2 separate regions of the Homo sapiens genome follow, and region 1 is linked to region 2. The links come from fine-mapping of genetic effects on gene expression. Tissue or cell type: testis. Region 2 holds a variant in brackets; the other region holds the start of a gene. All regions are shown on one strand. Distances are from middle to middle.

Region 1 (9,909 bases), 66 kb before region 2:
ATGGCATATTCTAGGTTCTGCACTTTTTATAGTTGACCTTTCAATAGTGTTGTGGCTACTGGTGCCAATTCACCCCTACAGAGTTGAAAATCTGAATATAACTTTTGACTCCCTGAAAACTTAACTACTTATAGCCTGCTGTTGACCTGAAGACTTAGCAATAACATAAACAGCCGATTAACAGGCATTTTGTATGTTACAAGTATTACATACTGTATTTCTTTCTTTCTTACTTTATTATTATTATTATTTTGAGATAGAGTCTTACTGCATCACCTAGGCTGGAGTGCGCTAGTGGCATGATCTTGGCTCACTGCAACCTCCGCCTGTTAGGTTCAAGTAATTCTCATGCCTCAGCCCTCCAGAGTAGCTGGAATTACAAGCACACCACGCCTGGCTAATTTTTGTATTTTTAGTAAATATGGGGTTTTGTAATGTTGGCCAGGCTGGTCTCGAACTCCTGACCTCAAGTGATCCGCCTCCCTCTGTCTTGCAAAGTGCTGGGATTACAGGAGTGAACCACTGTGCCCAGCCTCTACACACTACAGTCTTAGAATAAAGCAAGTTAGAGAAGAGAAAATGTTATTTAAAAAATCACAGCTGGGCATGGTGTCATGTGGCTGTAATCCCAGCTCCCTGGGAGGCTGAGGCAGGAGGATCACCCGAGATCAGGAGGTAGAGGCTGCAGTGAGCCCTGATGGTGCCACTGCACTCCAGTCTGGGCAGCAGAGTGAAACCCTGTCTCCAAAAAGAAGAAAAAAAGAAAAAGAAAAAGAAAATCACAAGGAAGAGAAAATACATTTACAGTTACAGAACGCTACAATATTTATCAATGCCATAAATTTGTTTACAAGATGAATTGTCTGTCTGAAGCAGACAACCGCAGCTGTAGAGCTCCATTTATGTTACGTAGCAAGCAATTCAACTTTTTCTTGTCCTGTCCTGACTTTTCTCTGCTTCTCGGGAGCATTTCCAGCATCACTAGTGGCACTTTACATGGGTCTCAGGATGTTATTCAATGTTTGCGGTATTGCACTAAACACAGTGAAAAATACGCGGGAACCGCCAAGAGATCCCTTTTTACCGGGGCACAAATTCCTGGAGAGGTGAACTGCCCACAGGGAGATAATTAATGTAACATGGCATTTAAAGCGGATACTTGCAACACTTGCACTCACTCCAGTAGCAACAGGAGGTGGCTATGAAATTGTTACAATAACACAATATATTCTATAGTTAATTTTATGCAGTTATGATTGAATGCTGCATCTTTACATTTATTTACATTTCTCTTGACTTGGAATAACACCATGTATGGTTTGTAAGTGTGTGTGTACGTTTTAATACATTTTAACTTTTTGTAACAGATTTGTGTATATTTTATGTTAGCAAATTATAAAATAGGGCTGGACATGGTGGCTTATACCTGTAATCTCGGCACTGTGGGAGGTAGAGGCAGGAGGATCACTTGAGTTCAGGAGTTAGAGACCAGCCTGGGCAACATGGTGAGACCTCGTCTCTATAAAAAGTAAAAAAATTAGCCGGGCGTGTTGGTGCTTGCCAGGAAGATCGCTTGAACCCAGGAGTTGGAGGTTACAGTGAGCCATGATTGGGCCACTGCTCTCCAGCCTGGGCAACAGAGCAAGACCCTGTCTCTAAAAGAAAATAATAACAAAAATAATAAAACAGACTAGTATCTACATATATTTTATGCATTCATGACATACCTAATTTTTTTTTAATATTTCTTGGCTACCAAGTTCATCTGCAAGTCTTTTCAAACTATTGCAAATCTCTAAAAATGTTTCCAATATATTTATTGAAAAACATTCTGTTTAAAGATGACCTCACTTTGGGAGGCTGATCAGATCAGCTGAGGTCAGGAGTTCGATACCAGCCTGGCCAACATGGTAAAATCCCGTCTGTACTAAAAATACAAAAATTAACCGGGTGAGGTGGCGTGTGCCTGTAGTCCCAGATACTTGGGAAGCTGAGGCAGGAGAATAGCTTGAACCCTGGAGGTGGAGATTGCAGTGAGCTGAGATTGCTCCACTGCACTCCAGCCAGGGTGACAGAGCGAGACTCTGCCTCAAAAAAAAAAAAAAAAAAGATGTGCACGGTTCAAACTCATGTTCAAGGGCCCACTGCAGTTCTCACCCATGGCTTCACTTTCTCCTCTTTCTTTTCTGCAGCTACAGTGAATGCCTGGTTCAGTTGCAAGAATGCCTTGCCCACTCTCCTCTGGGCCTTTGCTCATGCCTTCCCCCACCTGAAACACATCCCTATGGCTTCCCTAGGATGGCTCCTCTTCATTTTCAGACTTAAGCTCAAAATCACATCCTCAGTCAGGTGCAGTGGCTCACGCGTCTGTAATCCCAGCAATTAGGGAGACCGAGACAGGCAGATCTCTTGAGGTCAGGAGTTCAAGACCAGCCTGTCCAATATGGTGAAACCCTGCCTCTACTAAAAATACAAAAATTAGGCAGGCGTGGTGGCATGCACCTGTAATCCCAGCTACTCTGGAGGCTGAGGCAGGAGAATTGCTTGAACCTGGGAGGCGGAGGTTGCAGTGAGCCAAGATCGTGCCACTGCACTCCAGCCTGGGCAACAGAGTAAGATCCATCAAAAAACAAACAAACAAAAAACCCCATGTCCTCAGCAAACCCCTCCCTATGCACCTCCCATTTCCCTCAGCTCATTACACACTCAATTATTTTAAGGGCTCTCTCCCTGGCTCAGTTGTGAACTCCATAAGGAAATGGGTCATGTTTATTTTGCTCACTGAAAAATCCCCTATTACTTATTGCTTGTTGATTCTCCCACTCAACAAATATTTATTAAGCAACAGATTTGTCAGGCACTGGGTTTAAGCAGTGAAACAAGACCGAAAAGATTTCCGCCTTCACGGGAAGGGGAGAAGACACAGAAAACGAATAAGAATTTCAAGGCCAATCATGGTGGCGCATGCCTGTAATCCTAGCACCTTGGGAGGCCAAGGCAGGAGGATTGCTTGAGGCCAGGAGTTCAAGGCTGCAGTAAGCTAGGATTGCACCACTGCATTCCTGCCTGGGTGACAGCAAGATTCTGTCAAAAGGAAAAAAAAAGAAAGAAAAGAAAAAAAAAAAACAAACAATTGCAGGTAGTGGGGTAAACATGCTATGAAAATGAGAGAGAAGGGGCCAGGCGCAGTGGCTCAGGCCTGTAATCCCAGCACTTTGGGAGGCCAAGGCCGGTGGATCACCTGAGGTCAGGAGTTTGAGACCGGCCAGGCCAACATGGTGAAATCCTGTCTCTACTAAAAATACAGAAAATTAGCTGGGTGTGCTGGCGCATGCCTGTAATCCAAGTTACTTGGGAGGTTGAGGCAGGAGAATCACTTGAACCCAGGCAGGTGATGTTGCAGTGAACTGAGATCTGGCCATTGCACTCCAGCCTGGGCAACAGAGAAAAACTCCATCTAAAAAAAAAAAAAAAAAAAAAAAAAAAAAAAAAAAAAAAAAAACAGAGAGAGAGAGAGAGAGAAGGAAACGGAACTGGGGGGAGGATTTGCAAAAATATGGTTAGGGATGGCACTTCAGAGATGAAGCCATCCTGGAGTGTTACGGGCAAGGGAAATGCTGGGGCAAAGGCCCAGAGGCAGGAATAGGTTTGGCCTGTTGCATGAACAGTGGGTCCAGCTCCTAGCAAACTGTTTATTGAATGAAAGAAGAATGAATGCCTTGGGTCTAGGGTTGTGCTGGGCGCTTTCTTAAGTTTTCTTTCCCGGGTACCTCCCCAGAACTGGCATGCAGGTATTATTAAACCCATTACACAAGTGAAACTGGCCCAGAGACAGAAAAGTCCCTGGTCCAAGACCACACAGGAGTGAGGGGTGGAGGAACCCTCCTCCCATTGAGTTCTGGCTTTCCTATACTGAAAGCCCCTTCCTCTCCTGCAGTAAGGTAGGTGGAACCGCTGTCCCGCCTTGTTGGTGAATGTCGTTGCTAGACTTCAGACACATACAGGCTGGTCTGCTGAAAATCAGAGATGTCCACCTGCGCCCTATTCGAGGTCTCCGGCGTCTTCTTTGGCGTCGTCTTTGCCCTTTCAGAAGCGTCTGCACATTTTTCCAGGTGTCATTTCTCCAACTTGAACACAGGGAGCGCACTGGGCACGCGGGCACGTGGCTGTCCCCAGGGGCCTGGCTTGGGTCTCGCCCCTGGGCCGGGGCGCACTCGCGGGCGGGACATCTGGGGGCGCCCACGCGCTCTGGGACGAGTGTCGCTGGCCAGGCCCGGACTGAGGAAAGGCGAGTGAGACACTACTCGCCTGGGGTGCAAAATTTAAGGGAGTGAAAAAAAAAAAAAAAGAAAGAAACCAAAACCACCTCGAGTCACCAAAATAAACATTTTAATGCAGTATTTTTTAAAAAATCAACAGGAATCCTCCAAAGCCCACTATGAACAAAATAGCAAAATGGTAGAGAAAGGATCTGTGCCGCTGCGTCGGGCCTGTGGGGCGCCTCCGGGGGTCTGAAACTGGAGGAGACTCGGGGCTGTAGGGCGCGCGGATCTGGGGCGCGCCCTCGGTCCCGGCGCGCCCAGGGCCTCCCGCGCGGGGCCCGGCACAGGGAGGCGGGGAGGCGGGCGGGGCGGGGCGGGGCCGGGCGGCACCTCCCTCCCCTGCAAGCTTTCCCTCCCTCTCCTGGGCCTCTCCCGGGCGCAGAGTCCCTTCCTAGGCCAGATCCGCGCCGCCTTTTCCCGCGGCCCGCACGGGGCCCAGCTGACGGGCCGCGTTGTTTACGGGCCCGAGCAGCCCTCTCTCCCGCCGCCCGCCCGCCACCCGCCAGCCCAGGTGCCCGCCCGCCAGTCAGCTAGTCCGTCGGTCCGCGCGTCCCTCTGTCCCGGAGCCCGCAGATCGCGACCCAGAGCGCGCGGGGCCGAGAGCCGAGAGACAGTCCCGGGCGCAGCGCGGAGCTCCGGGCCCCGAGATCCTGGGACGGGGCCCGGGCCGCAGCGGCCGGGGGGTCGGGGCCACCACCGCAAGGGCCTCCGCTCAGTATTTGTAGCTGGCGAAGCCGCGCGCGCCCTTCCCGGGGCTGCCTCTGGGCCCTCCCCGGCAGGGGGGCTGCGGCCCGCGGGTCGCGGGCGTGGAAGAGAAGGACGCGCGGCCCCCAGCGCCTCTTGGGTGGCCGCCTCGGAGCATGACCCCCGCGGGCCAGCGCCGCGCGCTCTGATCCGAGGAGACCCCGCGCTCCCGCAGCCATGGCCACCGGGGGCCGGCGGGGGGCGGCGGCCGCGCCGCTGCTGGTGGCGGTGGCCGCGCTGCTACTGGGCGCCGCGGGCCACCTGTACCCCGGAGAGGGTGAGTCTGGGGGCGCGGGCGTGGGCGGGGAGCGCCGCGATGGGGAGAGGACCCCACCCAAGCCAAAATCGAGCCCCCGCTTGTGGACTGAGAACCCTCCCCAGGGGCGGGGGGCGGTGGCCAGGACGGTAGCTCCTGCATCGCGTAGGGGGAGCGGGAAGCCTCTGACCTTGGCCTTTGCCCGCCCGGGCTCGCGCCTCCGCGCCCTGCGTGCCCGACCTGAGCCCGAGGAACCTTGCCCCGGTGCCCGCCCCGCCGCGGGCTCCTCTCTGGAGCGCGCCTCCGACCCGTGCCCCGGCCCCTCCGAGCCCAAGTCGCTCCGGAGACACGACACGCGTCATCTTTGGGTCGCGGCCGGGAAGTGGGGTCACTGGGTCTGGACAGCCCCGAACAGCCAAGTCCCCCGAGCGCATATGGTGTAGGTAGAGCCAAGCGCCCTGAGTGCCTCACCGGTGGGTGACGCTGCCTGGGGTCAGGGACTGCAGAGCCCCCCTCTACCCAACTACCTTGGATCTAGGCCCGTGGCCACCCCGGACTCTAGGTCCATGTTTACCCTTTTGGGTTCTGTTTCCAGATGTCCGGAGGCAAATTCTAAAGCCTTAGCAACAGCAGCAATTGTAGCAGAAGTAGTGGCGGTTTTTTACCCTATTTATTGTAATTGGTATCACCGCACGCCACAGCCTAGTCTATCTTATCTCTCTGGACTGTCACAGTGGCCCCCGGAGGCAGATACAGTTATGCACCCATTTCACAGAGGAGTAAACTGAGGCTCATGTAGGACGCATAACTCCCTTGCCCTAAAGTCAGTGCCAGAGCCAGGACTTGAGCCTCTGTGTGTCCCGTTCTGCCCAAGAATCTGGACTACTGTCCCTTGTCTGCTGTCTCCTTGACCCCTCCTCTCCCCTCAGCCCTGCGCTTCATGAAGGAGCCTTTGACCTTGAGTGAGCCTTTCGTTCCCCCTGACCCCATGGGCCCCTCTCCCACGTGTGGGCAGCATCTTCCTTGGGCTTGACAATAGGCACCTTTGGGGTTGTAAGATGAAGATGGCGCAATCATTTAAGGAATATAGCCTGGGTTTCCCACTGTGGGGTCTGAGGCCCTGCTTTAAAAATATCTGTTGGGTTACTGTTTCAGATTTCTCCATAAAAGGAAATCAGTCGTGATGAGGAAGGGGTCAGGGAGGGAAGGAATTGAAGCTCTTAAATGTATTGATGGGGAAACGGGTGCATGTAAAATCAGGTGCTAGAGTGGACCAACCGGGTTTGCTGAGTCGACTCTGTCAATCACATAATGTCTAAAAGCCCCGGGCCCACCCCCCCCCAGCCCCGCCCCCAGGTGCCTGGGAGACAGTAGGTGCTCAATGAAGGGTGGCGGTTAGTTGGAGTTCTTGTTAAGAAAATCTGGCCAGCTGCGGTGGCTCAAGCCTGTAATCTCAGCATTTTGGGAGGCTGAGGCGGGCGGATCACGAGGTCAGGAGATGGAGACCATCCTGGCCAACATGGTGAAACTCCCTTCTCTGCTCAAAATACAAAAATTACCTGGGTTTGGTGGCGTTCGCCTGTAGTCCCAGCTACTTGGGAGGCTGAGGCGGGACAATTGCTTGAACCCGGGAGGAGGAGGTTGCTGTGAGCTCAGATGGCACCACTGCACTCCAGCCTGGCCAAAGAGCGAGACTTTGTCTCAAAAAAATAAAAAAAAAGGCGGGGCGTGGTGGCTCACGCTTGTAATCCCAGCACTTTGGGAGGCCGAGGCGGGTGGATCACCAGTTCAGGAGATCACGACCATCCTGGCTAACACGGTAAAACCCTGTCTCTACTGAAAAATAGAAAAAATTAGCCGGGCGTGGTGGCGGGCGCCTGTAGTCCCAGCTATTCCGGAGGCTGAGGCAGGAGAATGGCGTAAACCCGGGAGGCGGAGCTTGCAGTGAGCCAAGATCGTGCCACTGGGCGACAGAGCGAGACTCTGTCTCAAAAATAAATAAATAAATAAAAAGAAAATCCAAGATGAGTGGTTTCGAACTATGCCAGATTCTATGTGTGCGTGTGTGTGGTTCCCTGTTCTTCTGTTCCTTGTAGCTTTGGTAATTAATTGTGGATCTGTGCCTGGGCTTTCAGGGTCAGTAAATGGATTTACCATTTCTTTGCACATTTATGGCTTCCATATGGGCAGGGGTTTATGGTTTGTTGTTGTTCACCGTTGCATTTCTAGAGCCCAGAACGATGCCTGGCACATAGTAGGTGTTCAGTAAATATTTGTTCTGCAGTGGGGCACAAGTGGTGGAGTTCCTGGGTGTACTGGGCTCCTTTATCATCTTAAGGAGTTCCTTATTCTCTGCATAATACCTTCCTAAGAATTAGAAGAGCAAGCTCTCAGCAGGTGCTGTTCTATGCGCTTTGCATATATAATCTCAGTTAATCCTCACGGCAAAACCCCACGAGGTGCGGTTTAATCTTCCCTTTTCACAAGTGAGAAAACTTCGCTTGAGGCCAGCAGGCAGCAGGGCTGGGATTGCAATCTAGCTAGTGTGGCTGCAGAGCAATGGTTTCTTAACAAATCTTTGTTCTTTTGAGTCCGAGCCTCCGTACCCCCCACGATTGGGGTGATGGTGAACAAAATCCTGTCAAATAAATGGGCTGTGATGCCTCTTGAAGGCTTGGGGAGGGGCAAAGAACTTTTCAGATCATTAATCTCTAATGTCAACCAATATGGCTTTTTTTTTTTTGAGACGGAGTCTTGCTCTGTCACCCAGGCTGGAGTGCAGTGGCACGATCTCAGCTCACTGCAACCTCCACCTCCCAGGTTCAAGGGATTCTCCTGCCTCAGCCTCCCCAGTAGCTGGGATTACAGGCGTGTTCCACAACACCGGCTTATTTTTTGTATTTTTAGTAGAGACAGGGCTTTGCTGTGTTAGCCAGGATGGTCTCGACCTCCTGATCTTGTGATCCACCCGCCTCGGCCTCCCAAAGTGTTGGGATTACAGGAGTGAGCCACCGTACCTGGCCTTTTTTTTTTTCTTTTTTTTTTTTGAGACAGGGTGTCACTCTGTCACCCGGGCTGGAGTGCAGTGACACGATCTTTGCGACCTCCGCCTTTCAGGTTCAAGTGCATCTCCTGCCTCAGCCTCCTGAGTAGCTGGGATTACAGTCGTGTATCACCACCCTTGGCTAATTTTTGTATTTTTAGTAGAGATGGGATTTCGCCATATTGGTTAGGCTGGTCTCAAACTTCTGACCTCAAGTGATCTGCCTGCCTCGGCCTTCCAAAGACCTGGGATTATAGGTGTGAGCCATCACTCCGGGCCCAATATGGCATTTTGATTGGGATGAAGGGTGGAGGAAAATCAGTGTGATTTTTGTATCTATCTCTCTAGCTATCTATTATTTTTTGAGATGAGGTCTTGCTCTGTTGCTTAGGCTGGAGTGCAGTTGGGCAATGATGGCTCACTGCAGCCTCGACCTCCTGGACGCAAGCCATCCTCCTATTTTAGCCTCCGTAGTAGCTGGGACCACAGGCACACGCCACCCTGCCTGGCTAATTTTTACTTTAATGTGTAGAGCTGAAGTCTTGCTATTTTGTCCAGGCTGGTCTCAAACTCCTGGCCTCAAGCGATCTGCCTGCCTTGGCCTCCCGAAGTGCTGGGATCACAGGCATGAGCCACGGTGTCTGGCCTCTGCAGTTATTCTTATTCTTTGCTTCTCTCCTGGAGACCTGCTTCTTGCCCTTCCCCATTCATGCATAGAGACCACAGGGTGTGGGCTGAGTCCCCAGGGCTCCCCACCTCACCCCACTCTACCCTTGACTTCCATTCCTCTTTGGTTTAAGCAGAACTCTCAATCTTGGCACTGCTGACATTTGGGGCTGGATCATTCCTGGTGGTGGGGGCTGTCCTGTATGTAGAGTGTTGAGCTGGAACCATGGTCTCCACCCATGTGGTCCTGGGAGGATCCCCTTCCCCCCAGGCATGACAACCACTAATGTCTCCAGACATTGCCAGGCACGTCTCTGCAGGAGTTAACCTTTTCCCTGTCTGAGACATTTACCCATCTGGGCTCTTGCTCTTTCTCCTCTCTTTGTTCAATAATCCTCGGCCGGGTGCAGTGGCTCACGCCTGTAATCCCAACACCTTGGGAGGCTGAGGTGGGCGGATCCCCTGAGGTCAGGAGTTTGAGACCACCCTGGCCAACATGGTGAAACCCCATCTCTACTAAAAATGCAAAAATTAGCCAGGTGTGGTGGCGGGTCCTTGTAATCCTAGCTACTTGGGAGGCTGAGGCAGGAGAATCGCTTGAACCTGGGAGGCAGAGCTTGCAGTGAGCCGAGATCACACCATTGCATTCTAGCCTGGGCAACAGAGAGAGACTCTGTCTCAAAAAAAAAAAAAAAAAAGAAAAGAAAAAAGAATCTTCATTTACCCACGTGCTTTTTCAGCCTCTAAACACCCAGTACCCCCCAATCCCCATTACCTACCACTGACCTCCAGCCTCCACCCTGTCCAGCTTCCCCAGGCCAGTCCTCCCTGCCCTTTCCATCTCACTCTTTTCTCACTGTTCTGCCCCCAGCATCTGG
Region 2 (10,795 bases):
AGTGTTGCAGGGATTGGCCATCCTTGGTATAAGGCATAGGATGTGCAGGGTAGCAGGACAGCAGAGTGGGCAGTGTGTGGGGTTTCTTTCATTGATAGGGTGGTTCCCAGCACTCGGGGTCAGGGCTTGCTTGTAGAAGTTTCTGAAAAGTTGCAGTCATGTTTCATTTCTTTCTCCCCCTACCTAGCACATGCCAGGCCACACAGCATAGTACGATGGTTTGGAACCAGGCTTAACCTGTTAGTAGCCGTGGGGCTCTGGGCAAGTCCACTGGAGTTCTCCGGGATCTGTTTCCTCTTTTGTAAAATGGGAACCAAAAGGTATCACAGGCTGGGCATGGTGGCTCACGCCTGTAATCCCAGCACTTTGGGAGGCTGAGGTGGGTGGATCACCTGAGGTCAGGAGTCCAAGACCAGCCTGGCCAACATGGTGAAACCCCGTCTCTATTAAAAATACAAAAATTAGCCAGGTGTGGTGGCTGGTGCCTGTAATCCCAGCTACTCAGGAGGCTGAGGCAGGAGAATCACTTGAACCCAGGAAGCGGAGGTTGCAGTGAGCCGAGATGGCGAGGTGGCGCCACTGCACTTTAGCCTGGGTGACAGAGGGAGACTGTCTCAAAAAATCAACACCAAAACCAAACCCAACATGTATCACAAGCTCGTTGTGAGGATCAGAGAAGAGGATACGGGAATGATAAACATGGTAGTTACATTGTTGCTAGCATTGTAGTTATATTGCAGCTGTACATTGTGACCTATTGTAGCTACTGTTATTTCTTTGATTAAGTTTAGCAACTGAAATTTTTTTTTTTTGAGACGGAGTCTTGCACTGTTGCCCAGGCTGGAGTGCAGTGGCGGGATCTCGGCTCACTGCAAGCTCCGCCTCCCGGGTTCACGCCATTCTCCTGCCTCAGCCTCCCAAGTAGCTGGGACTACAGGCGCCTGCCACCACGCCTGGCTGATTTTTTGTAGTTTAAGTAGAGACAGGGTTTCATCTTGTTAGCCAGGATGGTCTCGATCTCCTGACCTCGTGATCCACCCTCAGCCTCCCAAAGTGCTGAGATTACAGGTGCGAGCCACTGGGCCCGGCCAACAACTGAAATATTTAACATACAATAAAATGCACATGGCCGGGGTGCAGTGGCTCACGCCTGTCATCCCAACACTTTGACAGGCTGAGGCAGGCAGATCACTTGAGGTCGGGAATTTGAAACCAGCCTGGCCAACTACTAAAAATACAAAAATTAGCCAGACGTGATGGTGCGTTCCTGTAATCCCAGCTACTCAGGAGGCTGAGGCAGGAGAATCGCTTAAACCCAGGAGGCGGAGGTTGCAGTGAGCCAAGATCAGGCCATTGTACTCCAGCCGGGGTGACAGAAGGAGACTCTGTCTCAAAATAAATAAAATAAAATAAAATGCACAGATCTGAAGCATTGAGTTCAATGAATTTTGACAAAAAATATATGCACCTGTGTAACCACCACTGAAAACAAAATGGAGGACATTGCCTCATCCCAGCCCTTTCCAGTGAATTCCCAGTACCCCCGGGAATGAGGTGTTACAATGATTACTATCACCATTGTTGATTATTATTGTTTAGTTTGGTTTTATTGAAGAAGCGGGTAGAGAAAGAAATAGTTAGCCTCATGCAAAAAGTAGGGCATATGAGAGCCTGAGATATGGCTTAAGAAGAGTATTGTTTGAGAAGTTTGGCTGAGTGTGGTGGCTTATGCCTGTAATCCCAGCACTTCGGGAGGCTGAGGTGGGAGAATTGCTTGAGCTCAGGAGTTCAAGAATAGCCTGGGCAACATAGTGAGACTCTGTCTCTATAATTAAAAAAAAAAAAAGAGACAGAAAAGTTTAAGGTATGTTGGCAGGTAGTCCTAGATGGGGTTTACTGCCAGGAGCAGTTAGGATTCAAAGAGCAAAAATTTGAGGGTAAAAGGATGTATGGCAGGTTGTTGGTGGTGGATATATAGCCCCAACATCCAGTCACTTTAAACTCTTATCAAGACAACACAGGGCCGGGTGCCGTGGCTCATGTCTGTAATCCCAGCACAATGGGAGGCCAAGGTGGGCAGATAACTGGTGGTCAGCAGTTCGAGACCAGCCTGACCAACATGGTGAAACCCTGTCTCTACTAAAAATACAAAAATTAGCAGGGCGTGGTGTTGGGGACCTGTAATCCCAGCTACTCAGGAGGCTGAGGCAGGACAATCACTTGAACCTGGGAGATGGAGGTTGCAGAGAGCAGAGATCACACCACCGCACTAGAGCCTGGGCGAAAGAGAGAGACTCCATCTCAAAAAAAAAAAAAAAAAAAAAAACAAAAAACACCACCAAAAACAAGACAACACAAAGCGTTTGAACGAAAACAGCATTTGCAGATGCAAATTCAGGATCCGAAATTAATTCTTCCCCCCTCTTTGCTGAGCTGCCAGAATGTTCCAAGGAGATCCCTCCTTTCCAGTTTCCTCCGTGGCGCACAGGCTGTGCCGAGTAAGTGGGCAATTGTGAGTTTCTGGAAATCAGCGAGCTGGTGTGGCTCCTGGCTCCTGGCTCTGGCCAAGGGAGTTGGCTTCCCTGTGTCCATGCCAGGAGGGGAGGCTGGAGGCTTCTAAAGGCCGCAGCTCCGCTGTAGACACGCGCCTCCTTGGCACTGGCTTTGTTGAAATCTGTCCCTAGATAGTCTCTCTTCTGCACAGACCTCTGAGGTTTTTCCATACTGCAAAGGGCCTTGCTGCAGGAGGAACAGTCTGACCTAATCTCTCCTAGAGGAGGCCTTGAGCTAATATTTTTTATTTTTTTTTTATTTTTGAGATGGAGTCTCACTGTCACCCAGGCTGGAGTGCAGTGGTGCAATCTCAGTCCACTGCAATCTCCGCCTCTCGGATTCAAGCGATTCTCCCTGCCTCAGCCTCCCAAGTAGCTGGGATTGCAGATGCCCGCCACCACACCCGGCTAATTTTTGTATTTTTAGTCGAGATGGGGTTTCACCATGTTGGCCAGGCTGGTCTCGAACTCCTGACCTCAGGTGATCCACCTGCCTTGGCCTCCCAAAGTGCTGGGATGACAGGCATGAAGCACCTCACCCAGCCAAGGTAATATTTCTGAAAGGTGGAGTACCATGCTATGAGCTAGACACTTGGTGTGGTTTATCCTGTCATCGCCTCAGTGACCTCACCAGGTGGACACTGTTAGGATTCCTAATTTGCAGAGGGAGAAGTTGAGGCTGACAGAAAGGTCAGCACTGTGCTCAAAGTGATCCAGCTGCTACCAAGATGAACTGCAGGCTTTGCTCTGAGCTCACAGCCTGACCTCAGTCTAGAGCTGGGAATCTTTCTCTCCCTCATTGCTACACCTGATCAATTACTGAGTCCCATCCCTTTAACTGCTTACATGGCCTTCAAATCCATCTTCCCTACCTAAGCTGCCCATTCATTGACCTGTGCCTTCTGTCCATCTGCTGAGAGCCAGGTGCTGTGCGAGCCTCTGAGAATGTGGCCGAGAACAATATGGATAAAAGTTCTGAGCCGGGTACGCTGACTCATGTCTGTAAACCCAGTGTTTTGGGAGGTTGAGGCAGAAGACTTCCTTGAAGCCAGGAGTTTGAGGCCGGCCTGGACAACACAGCAAGACCCCATCTTTACAAAAACAAAAACAAACAAACAAAAAAAAGAAAAAGAAAAATTAGCTGAGCATGGTGGCACTGACTTGTGGTCTCAGCTACTTGGGAGGCTGAGGTGGGAGCATCACTTGACTCCAGGAGTTCGAGGCTGCAGTGAGCCATGACTGTGCCACTGCACTCCAGCCTGGGCAATAGAGCAAGACCCTGTCTCAAAAAAAAAAAAAAAAAAAAAAAGACTGTAAATGTATCCTCCAGAGTAATTCTTCTTTTTCATTTTTCAAAAGCATCCTTGCTTTGTTTATGCTTCCAAAAGTTTAAAAACTGTAGCTAAGTTCCAAGAAAGAAAAAGGGAAGCAAAGGAAAAGGAAAACACAGACCCAGAGGCCCTTTATGGGGTTGATTGTATGTGAAGTCCATAAATTGATGGAGAGAAGGAGCACCTTGGCAGTATTTACTTGTACTCTCCTATGTCATGGATTTCCTCTCCATTTTCCCAAGGGTTCTTTCCTGTTCTTAGAAATGTTTTGTGATTTTGCTTCAGACACAGTTTGTCTACTTCTTGTAAGCATTGTTCTTAGATTGCTGGCTTTATATCTATCACTCCCTTGCTCATCTGCCCATCCATCTATCCATCCATCCATCCATCCATCCATCCATCCATCTATCCATCCATCCATCCATCCATCCATCCATCATCCCTCCATCCACTTGCTCATCTGCCCATCCATCCATCCATCTATCCATTCATCCAGTCCATTCACCACCCACCATCTATTATCCATCCATCCATCCATCCATTCATCCACTCACCCATTCATCCATCATCCATCCACTCACCCATCCATTCATTCAGTCACCCTTCATCCATTCACTCACCCATCCATCCATCCACTCATCCAATCACCCATCCATCCATACATCCACTCATCCATTCATCCATCCATACATCCACTCATCCATTCATCCATCCATCCACCCACCCAGACGTCCATCCATCCATCCATCCATCCATCCTTCTGTCTACTCTGCCAACAATCCACACACCTGTCCCTCCATCCCTTCCAACCACTCACCCAGCAATCTTCTCATCCATCTATCCACCCATGCATACATCCACTTATTCATTCATCCATCCCTCCACCCACCCATTCATCCACCCATCCATGTGTCCATTCATCTCTCCATCTATCCGTGTGTCTATCATCTAATATAAGGGAGATGTTTTGAAGTATTAAAAGTGATTATTTTGTAGCATAGGGGACAGGGATTGTGTTTTCTTTACTTACTGCTACCTTATTAAATGCTTACTAGTTCTAAAAGCCCTGCAATTGATTCCCTTCAATTTTCCAACTCTATAATTGCAGCATCTGCAGATAATGATGACTTCTTGCCTTTTGCCAATAATTAGACCAGTTATTGCTGTTAACCTTGTTATGGCAGGAACTTCCAGAACAGTGTTCAGTGACGCAGCTGAATATGGTCAGCCCAGTCTCATTTCTGATTTGAGTGGAATGCCTCAATTGTTTTACTGCAGAGGATAATTATATAATTGTTAATACTCTTGACCTTCCTGTCTTTAGCCTCACTGAGTAAATGGGGTGTGATCATGAAATCTTGATTGTCTCATAGATGCAAGAGACATAAACGACATTTGTCTGTGTATAATGACAGCAGATTTATTTTGCTAAGCTGTTAAGCTGTTAAAATAAGCCTTTAAGCCCCCGCCTCAATTTTCCAGCAGAGTGGAATGTTATTTTGTTGCTTCTGGCCAAGTGTCGATATTCATTTTAGGGCAGGTCTTCATGGAAAGTCTGCTGGACTATAGGTCTGGATACTTGCCGGACCCTGTGTCATCACTAAAGTTAGGGTGCGTTTCAGAACCACCCTGTACCACAGTGAAGAGGGACAAATGGCCTTAGGGAGCAGGACCCATGGGGGCCCTCTGGGGCTGTTTCTTGTGCCCTGAGAGAGGCCCTAGATTTGGGACAGTCTGATTTACCTCCCCTCCCTTTTTTTTTTCTGGGTGATGCTACCCTGGTTTCTGTGTTGAAATATGACCCTAGTGTGAAGGTCGCGGTCTCAGACCATCTTGTTTCTGGTATGTTAAGAAACAGAAAAACACCTTTTAGGACAC[A/C]ATGTTAACCATTGAGGATACATATCAGTGTTCTGGAAAAACAAAAACAAAAACAAAACAATCTGTACCGCGACTGTGGTTTTCATCAGGGTGGGCTGCCTTTCCGATCCATAACCCTGTGTGGCTTGATGGAGAACATGTTTTGTAACTTGCAAGGGCATCTGCAATAGCCGGGTCCTCTTGGTGAAAGGGGAGGACCCACATTAGGTCTAAGCTGGCTGGAGTCGATGCAAAACTCTCACATGCTTTGGAAAAAGCACGTGATCTTTCGACGAGAATGCAAATGTTGACCGGGTGCAGTGGCTCATGCCTGTATTTGCAGCATTTGGGGAGACTGAGGCAAGCGGATCGCTTGAGTCCAGAAGTTTGAGACCAGCCTGGGCAACTTGGTGAAACCCCATCTCTACAAAAAATACAAAAATTAACCAGGTGTGGTAGTGCATGCCTGTAGTCCCAGCTACTTGAGAGGCTGAGTTGAGAGGATTGCTTGAGCTCAGGAGGTTGAGGCTGCGGTGAGCTGTGATCACGCCACTGCACTCCAGCCTGGGCAACAGAGCCAGACCCTGTCTTTAAAAAAAAAAAAAGAATGCAAATGTTTGCTTGATTATTCAGCTGGTATTTGACACACAGTTCTTTGTTCCAGAGGGACTGTCCAGCAACAAATAGTGAATTCGTTAATTTTTCACACCAAACCTATTGAAAATAACCAGAAAAGGTATATGCTGGAAAACTCAGTGTTCTAGAAACATTCATGTTTGCCATCCCAAGAGCAAAAGTCATGGAATGCCTGATGCTTAGTGTTAAGAGGAAGGAATTCCACACAGCCTGTGGCTAGCTTTTCTTATTTCATTGGTGTCCAAGACAAGATTTGAACTGTTTACTAAAGGAAATTAGCATCATAAGTCTCCTCTGGCATATATTTCCAGCATCCAAGTGGAGCTGCTGAGATCTTGCTCAAGAGTAGCAAAATTGGCAGGAGGAGGAGGGCATTAGTTTTTACATCAGCTTAAAGAATTTTTTTTATCAGCCATTTTTGCAATTTGGAAACCTGTTTGGAGTAGGGGTATATGGAGATGAAATTGGGCTGTTTCTAGGATTCACCTCCTCCTTCAGGCATTTTTTTTTTTTTTTTGGAAACAGGGTCTGGCTCTGTTGCCCAGGCTGGTGTGCAGTGGCGTGATCATGGCTTACTGTAGCCTTGACCTCTTGGGCTCAAGCAATCCTCCCACTTCAGCTTCCCGAGTAGCTGGGACCACAGGTGTACACCATCGCACCTGGCTAATTTTTATATATTTTTTGTAGAGATGGGGTCTCACTATGTTGCCAGGGATGGTCTTGACCTCTCAGGCTCAAGCAACTCTCCTGCCTCGGCCTCCCAAATTGCTGGGATTACAGGCAGGAGCCACTGCAGTTGGTACTTAGAGTTGTTTTTTTTTTTTTTTTTTTTCCCTTGAGACGGAGTCTCACTCTGTTGCCAGGCTGGAGTGCAGTGGTGCGATCTTGGCTCACTGCAACCTCCACCTCCTAGGTTCAAACCATTCTCCTGCCTCAGCCTCCTGAGTAGCTGGGACTACAGGCACACGCCACCATGCCCAGCTAATTTTTTTTTGTATTTTTAGTAGAGATGTGGTTTCACCATGTTGGCCAGGATGGTCTCGATCTCTTGACCTCGTGATCCTCCCACCTCGGCCTCCCAAAGTGCTGGGATTACAGGCGTGAGGCACCACACTAGGCCGATCCTCAGACATTTTTAATTTTCCTTTTTTAGTGTTACAGCCAGCCATTTGAAAAATGAGACTTCCCCCTAACCTTGTGTCAAACTCAGAGACGTTGTCATCTTGGCTTTGATGTGGTGGAGGAGAGGGGCTTCTCATTCCGGGACGGGGTTTCTCCACCTGGGGCCTGCGGATACTGGGGCTGGATTGTTCTCTGGGGTGGGGCCGTCCTGGGCACTGAGGGTGCTAGCAGCATCCCTGGCTTCCACCCATTCCATGCCTGGAGCGCCGCCCCCGAGGCATGGCAAACACAAATGTCTCCAGACACTGCCAGGTGTCTCCTGGTGGGCAGAATCGCCTCCATTTGAGGACCCCTGGACCAGGGTGCTGGAATGGGGGTGAGGGGCACTCTGCAATTATTCTCTGCTCTTTTTTTGAGGGGGGGGAAATGGAAACCAAGAGCCCATCATCAGCCTCGTGGCTCTGTGGTTTGACACTGCCATGCTACCGACAAAAACCACGTCCCTAGACTTGGGGGACCAAGGAATCTGGAGGAATATGATGATAGTCATTTAATGAAGGTGGGTTTATGTATTACTCAAGTGCTGGGCTGGGGAGTCAGGACATAGCCACAGGGAAGAAAACAGAAAGGTCCTTCCCTCTTGGAAGCCCCTCTTGAAACACCTAATTGGTGACATGGTACACTGGAGAATCAGAGAGTGTCACTCAAGCATTTTGGCTTGGTGGTGGGGCGGGGGTGGCGGGTCAGGCACTCAAGCACCCCTAAGCTGATCTGGAGAAAGTGTCGGGGAAGGGGAACATTAGCGTTTCTCCCTGAGGAATCATCTTACACCTATAACGGCAACTGGCCCACAGTAACATTGATGGAGCAAGTGTCTTCTTGTGGCTCGGCCGCTCAATAGCTGTGTGACCATGGGCAGGTTACTGAACCTCTCTGTGCCTCAGTCTTCTCCTCTGTAAAATGGGAACATCTAGGATTGTTGGGGGAAATAAATGGTTAATAATTGGAATAGTGCTGGGTGCATAGGAAACTCTAAGTGTTACACAGCATGTGGCCACAACCTCCCCTCTCCCCTCCTCTCTCCTCTTTGCTGCTGCCCTGCTGCCTTAATGGGATACTCCCCTCTCTGTCTCTGTCTGTCTGTCTGTCTGTCTGTCTCTCTCTCATCCCCTTTTCTTTCCTCTGTTCCCCCACCCCCACCTCTGATGCAGTTTGGACCAAGTTTTCTTCAGCCAGCTAATTTAGAGACAAGAACCTGGATATTTATTGGGCGTTTGGGGGACTTCCTTACAGCCCTAGGTCTCTGTGAAAAGGGCCCTGGATTATCTCTGCAAAAGCCCACCTGCTATTGGTTAGCCAGGACTGTCTCCACTTTCAGACACCAGCTTCATCCAAACACTCTTTGCTGTATTTATAACCACGGTGCATTTCCTCGGGACGCACATCTTACGGCTTCTTGGCCCCTTCGCCCAGGGTGCACTGCCTGGACCATCGCCCTCCGGCAGAGACAGTGTCTTTCTTTGTATGTTCTCCTTCCTCTGGTCGAGATGTGGCTTGGTCACCTGGAGTGGGGCCGTCGGCAAGTCGCCTGGGCTTCGTGGAGGCTCGCTGCCCCCATGGCGGAAAGCTCGGCCACACACCCTGATGTCTCGACACCTTTGAGTTGCCCATGAATGGGTTTTCAGAGCTTCCCGTGTTTACTTCGCTGCACGCCTCTGTTTGTGCTCTGGGGAAATTCTTGGCAGAGGAAAAGCCAATTGGAAAACAGCCCTGCTTGGTGTCAGGGCTTGAGGTTGAGGGAGAAAGACTGAAACGGAGATTTGCATGAGCTGGTTTGAGCATGTCACAAGACTTTGTCTTTAAAAAAAAAAAAAAAAAAATTGGCCTGGTGTGGTAGCTCACTCCTGTAATCCCAGCACTTTGGGAGGCTGAGGCAGGCGGATCACGAGGTCAAGAGATCGAGACCATCCTGGCCAACGTGGTGAAACCCCGTCTCTACTAAAAATACAAAAATTAGCTGGGTGTGGTGGTGTACGCCTGTAGTCCCAGCTACTGGAGGCTGAGGTGGGAGAACGGCTTGAACCCAAGAGGGAGAGGTTGCAGTGAGCCGAGATCATGCCACTGCACTCCAGCCTGGGTGGCAGAGCGAGACTGGTCTCAAAAAAAAAAAAAATTTTTTTTTGTTCCAGTCTATTCTGGTGGCTTAGAGGAGGGAAGATGGGAAATTTTGGGTTTAATAGAGTAATATCCATCAGGTTGAGGGCTTTGAAGCACCTGGGAATATCCATAAGTCACTACTGAGCACCAGCTGTATAGAGTTATTGAGCATGTATTGTCTCCCAGGCACATGGTCCTCACAACAATCTTTTCACAGAGCTAGGATTTGAACCCACAGTCTCTCTGGCTTCAGAACCCTAGCTTTTCTTGCTATACTCTGCCTTACAGAGGAAGGGAACTTTTGTACTGGGTTTTGAAGGGTGAATAGGAGTTCAATGAAGAAGCAGCACATTCTGTGCTAAATTTGGCTTCCTGATCCTCCTAGAATTGGCCAGAAGCCAATATCTGGAGGCCAAAATTGGGTCACTAGGGTGACCAACTCATCACAGGGCCCTGGATTATCTCTGCAAAAGCCCACCTGCTACTGGTTAGCCAGGACCATCACAGTGTGCCCAGGTAACCCTGCGTTTCACCCCAAAGCAGAATTTTACACCAGAGCCTGGACACCAGTTGAATTTTCTTTAACTCATTTCTGTCAATGGTTACCTCCAAAAATGCTCCCTTGTGTCTTTATGCTGGGCTTCTTTCTCTAGATACTTCCATTTCTTGGTTTGGGTGAAAATCAAATGAGGTAATTAATGCTTGTGACATGTAAAGTGTAGTGAGTGGCACATGGTAACCTCTTTAGTTTTAGCCAGTTGGTTTTTTTTGTTTGTTTGTCTTTGAGACAGAGTCTCACTCTGTCACCCACGCTGGAGTGCAGTGGCGCAGTCTCAGCTCACTGCAACCTCTGCCTCCCAGGTTCAAGCAATTCTCCTGCCTCAGCCTCCCGAGTAGCTGGGATTACAGGTGCACGCCACCACACTGGGCTAATTTTTGTATTGTTAGTAGAGATGGTGTTTTGCCATGCTGGCCAGGCTGGTCTCAAACTCCTGACCTCAGGTGATCCGCCCTCCTTAGTCTCCCAAAGTGCTGGCATTACAGGCATGAGCCACAGTGCCCAGACAGTTTTAGCCAGTTTTTCACTGGCCTCCCTCTTTGCCTTTTTTGCAAGGGAGCTGGCCTCCCTGTCCCTGGAGT

Evidence for each region. PIP is the estimated chance that this variant, and not a neighbour inherited with it, causes the effect.
Region 1: INSR starts here. The variant in region 2 is fine-mapped to the expression of INSR in testis (GTEx, PIP 0.91).

Annotation. Positions count from the first base shown.
Region 1 is chr19:7,289,226-7,299,134 of GRCh38, reverse strand. INSR (insulin receptor) reads left to right here and starts at 4,721. Exons shown (of 22, transcript NM_000208.4): 1 at 4,721-5,343. The coding sequence starts at 5,244. RefSeq lists silencers at 4,140-4,319, 4,460-4,849, 4,870-5,149, 5,290-5,429, 5,480-5,539 and an enhancer at 5,521-6,279.
Region 2 is chr19:7,222,827-7,233,621 of GRCh38, reverse strand. The region is part of intron 2 of INSR (insulin receptor); the gene reads left to right. Among named protein-coding and RNA genes, the nearest start is that of INSR, 66 kb to the left of the region's middle. The variant A/C (reference allele first, on the strand shown) is at 5,762.